3 linked regions of the Homo sapiens genome follow. The protein of the gene in region 1 interacts with the protein of each later gene in a pairwise test. Each region holds a gene or a part of one and is shown in the gene's direction. Other genes may lie near its edges.

Region 1 (3,752 bases):
ATAACATAAGTATATATTTCATATATTTATATTAAAGTAGGCAAACATATTTGGATAATTAAATATTTTTATATAATTTCGTATATTTTTTTGAGACAGAGTCTTGTTCTGTTGCCCAGGCTGGAGTGCAATGGCACGATCTTGGCTCACTGCAACCACCATCTCCTGGGTTCAAGCGATCTTCCCACCTTATCCTCCTGAGTACCTGGGGCTACAGGCATGTGCCACCACGCCTGGCTAATTTTTGTATTTTCTTAGTAGAGATGGGGTTTTGCCATGTTGTTCCGGCTGGTCACAAACTCCAGGGCTCAAGCAATCCACTCACTTCAGCTTCCCAAAGTGCTGGGATTACAGGCATGAGCCACAACACCCAGCCCTTTATATAATTTTAAAAGTGTAGGTAATTAGGTAAAATTAGGTTAAAAGTATATGTATATTTACCTGATATTTAAATATTACCTAAGTGTTTAATGTGGACATGTAAGCTCTTTAAAGATAGTGCTTATGTATTTTATATCTGTTTCACATACTCCTTATATATCCCCCACAGAAATGGTCACAAATAGGTTCCTTAATAAGTATTTTTGAATTCAGCCATGCTATATATTCATTAGTAAGTGAGTTTTCTTTTATTATGAACTACAAACTTTAACCTTTTTTTGAGTAGTGAGCAGTTATTCATTTACCTTCACACTCTTTAAATACCAAATTTTGAGTGAGTGAGTGTGTAAGGTTTTGTCATACAGACTTGCAATTCCTATATGGGATAAAGTAGACTAGCACAGGAATTTTTCTTGTATCACTCATGCAAGACTCTAAATTCCTTAAAGGCAGGGATCATGTATATTTTGATCACTGTTGTATCCTCAGCACTTCACATGGTGCCTGTCACATAAATATTTGTTAAATGACTTCTCCAAGCAATAGCTTTGTCTTTATGTTATCCTGTATTTCAAAACGTTCATATATAAATTCTCTCAACTATGACTTGTTTCATAGGGTCTAATAATTGTTCCTCTGCTGAGTTATTCTCAGCAGATTTAGATTCATTTAGCAAATGTTTATTGAGCACTAACTATATACCAGGCCCTGTTCTGGGCATTCAGGATATAGCAGCAAACACAATAATTTAAAATCCCTGTCCAGTGAAGTGTATATTCTTGTAGGCTCTGTAAAAAGATGCCCTGTGCATTGTCATGGTTGTTTCTCAGTCCCTGACTCTTCTTCCGTGACTAGATGTTTTTCTTACTCATGTGATCAGTTGCTAATTCAGACGTGGCTGTCATGCCTGTGTTATTAAGTAACGCCATGTTTCCCAATCAAAACCAGTCTCTATTAAGCAACTCCAAATATTCCAAAAGCATTCTTTAAGGAAGAAACAACCGGATTGCAAAATAGTTTTTTCTGAAATTTCAAGAAGTGAAAAGTTTGATCAGAATTTATTATGTCAAATGGAGAGTTTGTGTTTATTATTAAAATATGCCTTATATTTTAATATGGTCTAGCTTGTGTCTATCTGGCTATTTCTCTAAGTGTTTAGTTAACTGTTATAAGAAGATAACAACATTACAAATGTCCTTGGGGGTGAAAAAACTTGCCAGAAAATACTAAAAAGCTTAATTTACTTGCGTTTTTTTTTGTAGTACTTATTGTATTTTAGTTACAACTTTCCTATGTCTATTGAAATATAAATCCTGATAGCTTTAACTTCATAGTAGTCTCTACTATGTGGAGAATCTTAGAAATGTTAGCAGTCATCATTGAAGTATAGCTTAAGACTGTGTTTGGTTAATTGAATTTTCTGGTTATCTGAGTTTGTTTTACATGGGTTATCATTATCGTTTTTCAAAATATAAGAGAATATGATTCAGACCATTAGAAGATTATGAAGATAATAATTATTAACATGTAATAATTATTATAATTTATCATGTGCAGGCATTGTTGCTCACTTTACAGGCAATCTCATGTACATACAACTTTATGACATAGTTACTGTTATTATCCCCAATTATAGATGAAGAAACTAGGTTTTAAATAGGTTACATGACTTGACCAATGTCACATAACTTGTACAGGTGATATCTGAACCAAAGAGTCTGAGGCCAGAACCTGCACTTCTAACCACCTTACTATATAGCCTCAAAAATTCAGACATCATCTGATCAGCATCATCAGTTAATTAGTATATGCAATGTTAGCCTTAAAATAAAAATGATGATTTAAGATTCATGGTTGTTGCAGTGCTGCTCATTTTGGTTTGCCTTAATACTTTCGGTAAAATACTTCCAGGGACTAATTAATGTTTTCCTTTTTTCCTCTTTGACAGCATTGGATTCAAAGGCTAACAATTTGTCCAGTCTGTCCAAGAAATACCGCCAGGATGCGAAGTACTTGAACATGCGTTCCACTTATGCCAAACTTGCAGCAGTAGCTGTATTTTTCATCATGTTAATAGTGTATGTCCGATTCTGGTGGCTGTGAAATAATGAATACAGTCACTGGTAAGGGAGAACCTAGAACCCAGTAGGTGTATATTTTCAGGAAACTGAGCTCACAGAGATGTGTATTAGAATCCAAGTGGAACTTCTGCCTCTAAAGACCTTGCAAGAAAAGAGATGCCCTGAAAATGAAAGGTTGCACCTCATTTAATGAAGCTTAACCCTATGTAGAAAGTCTCTTTCGGGGGCAGAGGCTTTCTCTGGGTGCCAAGCCATATATATTAGGGAATAGTAGATTGTTAATTTCGTTTTTTCCCTCCCAGTGCATTTTAAAAACAGCACTGGCTGGGGCATTCTCATTCTCTGATGGAGCCATCAATGAGATTTAACTTAGTCAACCTGTGCTAGCAACATTCTGAAATTCCTTCAAAGAAGGCAGTCCTTTGGGAAGGTGTTTTTTTTTTTTTTTTTTTTTTTGACTCTAATCAACATTCCTTTTGTTGGTGACATTTGTGATTTTCAGTAATCTGAGTTTTTGATGGCCTTTTAAACAAGACTCCAGTATGTGAAGGTTAATTGCTGTGCTCCACAGATCTTGTCTATTGGCCCCTGTAGAAAGTTAACCTTTGTTGTTTTCCTTTTATAATTTGCTTATTGCACAATTGCTTTAGGGTAAGTGAATTATATTAAGATGCCTTGAAATTATAGCACTCCTTGATTAAGAAGCTAAAATGTTTCTCTCATTTACTCCTTAAACAAAAGACTTAAATTAGTTTGGGTCATTATTACTTTTATTTTGCAGCATTTGGTTTGTTATTAGCGTAAGAGCAAGTATAGGATATGGAGAGGCCCCTGGCTTCATGAGAACAAAGGCAGGCCCAGGTTATAATTACAGCTTTCTCCTGCCCCTTCTTTACTTTCTCTACCACAGTTTTCTCCACTGTTTGTTTTCCTCTTGCCACAATTTGCTAACATTTAAAAAATTTTCCTGCACCCAGTAGTTTCATATCCTGTAGACATCCTCTTAGGACATTCTCAAATTTCAAAATAAAAAATATTCATCTATGTAGTTAATTAAAGTTAAAGTTTTTGCAGATCAACTACTCAAACTACTAAATACATTTACCTGAGAAAAAGTCTCTGAGAGCACTTCATTCCTGTTTTAGTTCGTGTAAATTCTCTGAGAATGTTCTGGAGATAGATAACTCATTTACAGTGGTTTCTATTAACTAATTAAAGTACCCATGATTTTTTCCTTTTCTGCTCAGGGATGATGGAGATTTCCTTTTACCTTCTGAGGTAGAATTTTTT
Region 2 (3,752 bases), on another chromosome or scaffold:
TGCAGAAGTGGGAAGACAACTCTGGAGTCAGGGTGCTTAGGAAAGTCCTCACAGAGGAGGAGCTGGGTCTTAAAGGAGGGTTCACCGGCCCTGGGTGGGGCCCAGGTAGCAAAAACAGCAAGGTAGAGATCTGGAGGACAGGATTGGAGGCAGGGACGAGTTGTGAAGGGCTTTGCCAGCCGTCCCCAGGGGTTTGAGCTTTATTTACTCTGTAGATGTTGAAGATCCACTCATGGGCTTCAAGTGGTGAGAAACATCGGATTTGCATTTTAGAAAGGTTGCGTTTTTTCTACACACTCTTTCATCCTGTGATGAGTGAATTAGAAGGAAGAAGGCAAAGCTGGGAGACCTTTGGAGTCATCCAGGTGAGACATGATGAGGGCGTGAACCAGAGCAGTGGCAGCAATGAGAAGAGTAATGAAGAGGAGGGGATGGATCCCAAAGATATTTAAGAGGTGGTAAGGGTGGGAGTTAGTAGCTGACTTGGTGGCTTTCCCTTGGCCAGTGGGATGATGGTGGGCATGGCTTAGCCAGGGTCTTGAACCACACTTGTACAGCTAGCCTTGCTCAGCTTTGTGCCTCTGCCCTTGCCATGAGAAGAATATGCCCAGGCAAGTCCACTGGGCCCCGGAGGAGGATGAGAGACAGGTGGAGTGGAGCTACGCTGCCCCAGCCGTCTGCCAACCACAGACATGTGAGCTGTAATAGTAGACGGTAGTTGTTTTAGGCCAGGGTTTTTGAGATGATTTGTTATATGGCGATTGCTAACTAAGAAATGTCTTTATTCTTCTCTTGAATGCTTACTATGTGCTGGGCTTTGTGCCAGGCACTGGGAATACTATGCTGAACCAGGCAGGCAAGGCCCTCACTCTCAGGAACTCATGTTAGGGTGGGGATGTGGCAGAGGAAGCCAGACAGACTTTGAGACCGCTGGTTCTAACTGGGTGCATGGTGGTGCCATTAATTGGGGTGGGGGTCTTAGGAGAGAAACAGGTTTTGGGGAAAAGATAATGGGTTTGATTTTATTTATTTATTTTTTAGAGACAGAGTCTCACTGCATTGTCTAGGCTAGTCTTGAATTCAAGAGTTCTGGGCTCGAGCGATCCTTCTGCCTCTGCCTCCCAAAGTGCTAGGATTACAGGCATAAGCCACCACACCTGCCCATGGGTTTGATTTAGGAAAGGAGTTTGGGATGCCTGTGGGACATTAGGGGGAGCTGTCTAGGGAAGGGCAGGAGCTATAGGTGTAGCACACAGGAAAGAGGTCTGGCCGGGGACAGAAATTCTCAATATAATATTGAAAATAACCTGTAGCAAAGGGAGTGAGACAGAGTAAGTGCTGTAGAAATTCAGAAGAGGAAGAGAAGCCTTGGGACCTGGGGGAATGAAAGAGATTTTGTTCTGAAGGTAACCTGCAAGCTGGTTTATACTCATGGAAGTGAGAGGAGAAAGGCACGCCTAACAGAATGAATAGGACCTGCAAAGGCATGGAGATGAAAGACAGGAAGAGCTGGATTGTGAGGAAAAGGCTGAAGATGTCAATCGGGGCAAGGTCATGAAGAATCTTGAATGGCAGGCCAAGGATGCTGTTGTGTTTCATTAGGAAATAAGGAGATATCGAACATTTTTTTTTTTTTTTTGAGATGGAGTTTCGCTCTTGTTGTCCAGGCTGGAGTGCAATGGTGCGATCGCGACTCACTGCAACCTCCACCTCCCAGGTTCAAGCGGTTCTCCTGTCTCAGCCTCCTAAGTAGCTGGGATTATAGGCGCATGCCACCACATTTCAGCTGAAGCAGGCCTGGTCACATTAATACCTACCCATCCATTGTTTTTTTGTATTTTTAGTAGAGACAGGGTTTCATCATTTTGGTCAGGCTGGTCTTGAACTCCTGACCTCAGGTGATCTGCCCATCTCCGCCTCCCAAAGTGCTGGGATTACAGGCGTGAGCCACTGTGCCCAGCCACTATCGAGCATTTTTGAGCAGGGGAGAGACATTTGGTACGTATGTCTAAGAGATGGGCAGTCATGTGCAGGGGATGAGTTCTGCAGTAGAAAGCAAGAGATATTGGTTCTAATCTCAGCTCTTCCATTTACTGGCCCTGGGATATGGGGTAAATAATGTCCCCTCTCTGAGCTCTGTCTCACTGCAAAAAAATGGGAGTAAAATTTTCTGACCTTCACATGAATCTTTTTTATTTTATTTATAAATATATTTTTTGGAGAGGAAGTCTTGCTCTGTTGCCCAGGCTGGAGTGCAGTGGCATGATCTTGGCTCACTGCAACCTCCGCCTCCTGGGTTCAAGCAATTTTTCTGCCTCAGCCTCCCAAGTAGCTGAGACTACAGGTGCATGCCACCACACCCAGCTAATTTTTGTATTTTTAGTAGAGACAGGGTTTCACCATGTCGGCCAGGTTGTTCTCAAACTCCTGACCTCAGGTGATCCACCCGCCTCAGCCTCTCACAGTTCTGGGATTACAGGTGTGAGCCACTGCGCCCAGCCTGAATTTTAATTATGTAAGAACCATGACAAAATGCGAACGAAGTGCTTGGAAGACCACAGAGCAATGCACAAGGCTGGGTAGGTATTAATGTGACCAGGCCTGCTTCAGCTGAAATGTGAGGCTGGAATTCCCAGACAGGTGTGCATACTACAGATGCCATTTCCTTAACCTCTGTCTTTTCTCCCACCTTGGAGAGGGGATCGACAGAGATGTGAAGCCATTAGCAGCTGGCAGAGCTGGGATTTATGTTCTCAAGCCCTACCTTCCCATTCTTGATGCAGTCCCACACCTCCCTCCACATGAACAGGACATGTCATTTAGAGAGGGCCTGCCCAGGACGGGCCTGCGTCAAGGCCACAAAGCACTGGCCTGTGCAACAGTCACTATCCTCAAGGAGTTCACATGCTAGTTGGATCATGAGAGCACATACCTCAAAAAGCCATTGGGGTGGCACCTGATAATGGGCCAGGTAAGTGGTGCAGACAGTCGCTGGTGGAGGGTGAGGAGAAAGTAGAGAGAAGCAGCATGGGAGCCGGGCGTTGAAGACTGGTGGGGTTTAAAAGAGGGGAGGGGAAAGGAGCCAGAAGGACTGGGGAGGACTCTTTCCTGTGTCAATCCATTGGTTTCCCCTCAGCACTGAAACCAAACACCAAAACCCCATTTAATGGAGCAAAGACAAATGTGACCACAATGAGAGAACCACCTCACACCCATTAGGATGGCCATTATAAAAACAAAACAGAAAATAACAAGTGTTTGGGGTGGATGTGGAGAAATTGGAACCCTTGTACATTGCTGATGGGGAATGTAAAATGGTGTGGCCACTGTGGAAAACAGCACAGTGGTTCCTCAGAAAGTTAACCATAGAATTACCATATGATCCAGTATTTCCACTTCTGCATATGTACTTGAAAGAGTTGAGAGCAGGGACTCAGACAGACCTTTGTACACCCGTGTTCATAGCAGCCTTATTTTGAGTAGCCAAAAGGTAGAAGCAACCCAGGTGTCCATCAATGGATGAATGGATAAACAAAATATGGTGATATATACAATGGAATATGATTCCGCCTTTAAAAGGAAGGAAATTCTGGCTGGGCACAGTGGCTCACGCCTGTAATCCTAGCACTTTGGGAGGCCAAGGCGGGCGGATCACCTGAGCTCAGGGGCTTGTGACCAGCTTGGGCAACATGGTGAAACCTCGTCTCTACTAAAATTCAAAAATTAGCCGGGCATGATGGTGTGTGCCTGTA
Region 3 (3,752 bases), on another chromosome or scaffold:
CAGTATGGCTTGCTGCCCTGGAGGATATTGATAAGATGTTCTTATGTTCAGGTGGTTTGGCCAGGGATATTCCTTGGGCTCTGTCAGGATTTGATAGGGATATTTCTTCAGTTGGGTCTTTGCTTGGCAGGGTATGATAAAGATGTTCCTGTGTCTTGTGGTCAGGTGGCTAGGCAGGATTTCTCAGGGCCCGAACCCCCATGGAATGTTTCACTTTGACAAAGGCCTGTGAAATGGCAGGGGGCTTACAAAATGGTGTAGTTTGGACTAACATTAAGGTCTGTTTCAATGTTAATGCTGGTCAGTTATGCCTGAATTCCAAAGGGCGGAGGATATAATGAGGCACATCTGACACCTTTTCCCCATCATGGCCTGAACTCGTTTTTTAGGTTAACTTTGGAATGCCCTTGGCTGAGAGGAGGACTCCATTTAGATGGTTGGGGGGCTTAGAATTTTATTTTTGGTTTACAAAGGAGAGAGAGAGTGTGTAAGAGGGAGACAGAGAGAGGAAGACACAACTGTTTAGCTGGCATTAGGAACCAGAATTTGCTCCTTTTGCAAGTCTGATGTTCATGGAGTCGGGACACCATGTGCCATGGTTGAAGCAGCTTAGGTTTTGAAGACAGACAGAGCTGTATCTGTTGGTCTAGCCACTTCCCAGCTGGGTGTCCCCGTTCAGGATACACTGCCCTTCAATGTTACCATCAAAGAGGGTTTAATGGGACGCTGGGGAGGAAATCCCACCATAGTTCCTGGCCCCATGTAGGCGCTCAGCACTGTCAGTTCCCATCCTAAGGTCCTTCTTCGAAGAGAGAAGTTTCTGCTGCATGGAGAGGTAGAGACAGGGTGAAGGTACCCAGCTGTGGCTGGGTGGGCATCACAGGGGGTAAGGGGCAGAGAAAGCTTCCCCTTCACCCTCTGAAGGTTCACTGAACGTCAACTGACAAAAGGCAGATTAACAGGAGAAAGGCTGTGACAATTTATTTTAATATGCACAGCATGAGAGAATGGTTGCCCAATAATCCAAAGGGGTACAGCAGTTTGTATACCATTCTTCACAGGGGAGGGAGGAAATGGGGAATGCAGACAATTCTTTTGAGTGGTAGTAAACAATTATTAGGGAGAATGAATGGACTGGGAGACAAAGTAACTTGTCAATGATTCTCTGGAATTTGATTGGCCAGAGGGGTAGGCTTAATCTGGTGGGAAAGTTCGTCCAGGTGTGTGCATTCCTCGGTCTTCTTTTCCACATGAGATAATGAGGTCTGAGGGAGGAGACGGCAGGCAATTGTGTTTGTCTTAGGGGGTCTGGTTTCTAGGTAGATAAGGGAGTTTCAGAGGACTGCCCAGCTGCATCCTGTGCCTTGGTAGAGACCACAGGTTGAGACAGGAGGCAGTGGAGAGGTCACAAAGACCTTGAGGCAGCTTCTTTAGTTCAGTCATATTTTGAGGTGTAATATTCTGATTTCCTTCGGTGGGGGGCGGGGGGGGGGCGGTTAACAGAAATACCAAACTCTGTGAAATCTTTTAAAGAGGTTTATTCTGAGCCAATATGAGTGACCATGGCTCGGAGAAAACACAAACCCAAGAAGCCTTCAGTGGGTGGTCCCAAGGCAATTGGGTTACAGTTTGGTTTTATACATTTTAAGGAGGCAGGAATTATAGGCAAAGACATAAATCAATACATGGAAGGTATCTATTGGTTCGGCCCCAAAAGGTGGGATATCTTAAAGCCAGGGGGCTTACAGATTATAAGTGGACTCAGAGATTCTCAGATTTGCAGTTGTTAAAGGAGTAAAGCTTTGTTTAAAGACTTGAATTCAGCACAAAGAAATGCTTACATTAAGAGAAGGGGTGGCCAGGTGTGGTGGTTCATGCCTTTAATCAAGCACTTTGGGTGACCAAGGTGGGTAGATCACTTAAGCCCAGGAGTTCAAGACCAGCCTGGGCAACATGATGAAATGCTGTCTCTATTAAAAATACAAAAAATTAGCTGAGTGTTGTGGCACTCACCTGTAATCCCAGCCACTTGGGAGGCTGAGGTGTGAGAATTGCTTGAGTCCATGGGTTGCAGTGAGCCGAGATCATGCCACTGCACTCCAGACTGGGTGAGAGTGAGACCCTATCTCAAAAAAAAAAAAAAAAAGATAAAGAGGTCATGTGATGCTATACCAGAGTCAGTTGGAAAGTAAGCCACATACTGGGTTAATTTAAAAGAACTGGCCTAATGAGATTTGATGGTTTGTAGGGCGTGACTTAACCCTTGCCTTGTAAGGCCTTAGGTCTTGTCTACAATTTGATGTCTTCTTGCTGCAGCCGGCTTTGTTAGTCTTATGATCCCCATTTTAACCTTAATCCTGGGCAGTTGTGCCTAAACTCCAAAAGGGAGGGGGCACAACCAGGTGTGTCCTACCTCCCTTCCCCTCACGGCAGGGAATTCAGTTTTTCAGGTCTCTCTGGGGTTCCCTCGGCCAAGAGTGGGTCTGTTCAGTTGTTTGGGGGTTAGGATTTCATTTTTGGTTTCTCCTCAGCACATGTGTATCTCTGGAGAAAGCTAGGGAAAGAGGAAAGACAGGCAAAGCAAAAGGAGATTATTATCTAGAGGTTTTAATCAACTCATAAGGGAAATAAAGTTGAAACTCTACAGAAAAGGAGGTGAAATAGCACCCCACTGTCATCATATATTCATCATATATACGTATATATATTTTCAGACCTACTGCTCTGTCGCCCGGGCTGGAGTGCAGTGGTGTGATCTCAGCTCAACTGCAGCCTCTGCCTCCCAAGGTCAAGCAATTCTCCTGCCTCAGCCTCCCGAGTAGCTGGGACTACAGGTGCGCCACCATGCCCGGCTAATTTTTGTTGTTGTTCTTTTTGTTTTTTTGAGAGGGAGTCTCACTCTGTGGCCCAGGCTGGAGTGCAGTGGTGTGATCTCGGCTCACTGCAACCTCTGCCTCCCAGGTTCAAGTGATTCTCCCGGCTCAGCCTCCTGAGTATCTGGGACTACAGGCACACGACACTGCACCTGGCTAATTTTTGTATTTTTAGTAGAGATGGGGTTTCACCGTGTGGGCCAGGCTGGTCTTGATCACCTGACCTCAAGTGATCCACCCGCCTCAACCTCCCAAAGTGCTGGGATTACAGGCACGAACTACCGCACCTGGCCCCACTCTCATCATATTATTCCAAAAATAGCCATGGTCTCTCTGAGGCCCCTCACCTGAGAGAACAGAAGGGCTTCTATCCCTTGGGGCTGGAGGTGAGCCCAGCTGAATCCTCTTTCTTGGGGCTGGACTGGGAGTAGGTGGGATATCTCAGTACCTCTTCCATTTACTGAAGCTCATTCCTCACACTTGCTAGTGTCACAAACAGATGCCCATTGGGTGCAATTAACGTAAGAAAAGATAGCACTTTTAAGGCTTGCTTACTCCCAGCCTCATTTTGAAGCTCTAGGCTCCTGTGCATTACTAATTCATAAGTCTAGGAGCACATACCTTTCATTATTTCCATTTTATAGGTGGAAACAAGAAGACTTGCCAAGTATTTTCTGCAAGGCTGTGAAGCATGTTAGAAGCAATGGTAATAGCAGGTGCAGAGTGGCCAAGTCCTCATTTCCCCCTCAATGGACAAATCCCTTTAGCTGAGCCCATGAGTCATTGGCCTTTCCAGATTGATGCTGCCCTGGAGGGATGGAGCCCAGGGTTGGAGACAGTCAGGGCCCATCTGTACATTCCTTCTCCTCACTCTGCTCT

What was found.
Region 2: the proteins of SEC22B (region 1) and TMEM229B interact in binary tests that used the Homo sapiens proteins (3 or more experiments, as listed by UniProt).
Region 3: the proteins of SEC22B (region 1) and MGST2 interact in binary tests that used the Homo sapiens proteins (3 or more experiments, as listed by UniProt).

Annotation. Positions count from the first base shown.
Region 1 is NC_000001.11:120,155,770-120,159,521, reverse strand, and holds part of SEC22B (vesicle-trafficking protein SEC22b), read left to right. Parts: intron 1-2,329; coding exon 2,330-2,484; 3' UTR 2,485-3,752. UniProt on the Homo sapiens protein: SNARE involved in targeting and fusion of ER-derived transport vesicles with the Golgi complex as well as Golgi-derived retrograde transport vesicles with the ER.
Region 2 is NC_000014.9:67,475,054-67,478,805, reverse strand, and holds part of TMEM229B (transmembrane protein 229B), read left to right. Parts: intron 1-3,752.
Region 3 is NC_000004.12:139,668,776-139,672,527, forward strand, and holds part of MGST2 (microsomal glutathione S-transferase 2), read left to right. Parts: intron 1-3,752. UniProt on the Homo sapiens protein: Catalyzes several different glutathione-dependent reactions. Catalyzes the glutathione-dependent reduction of lipid hydroperoxides, such as 5-HPETE.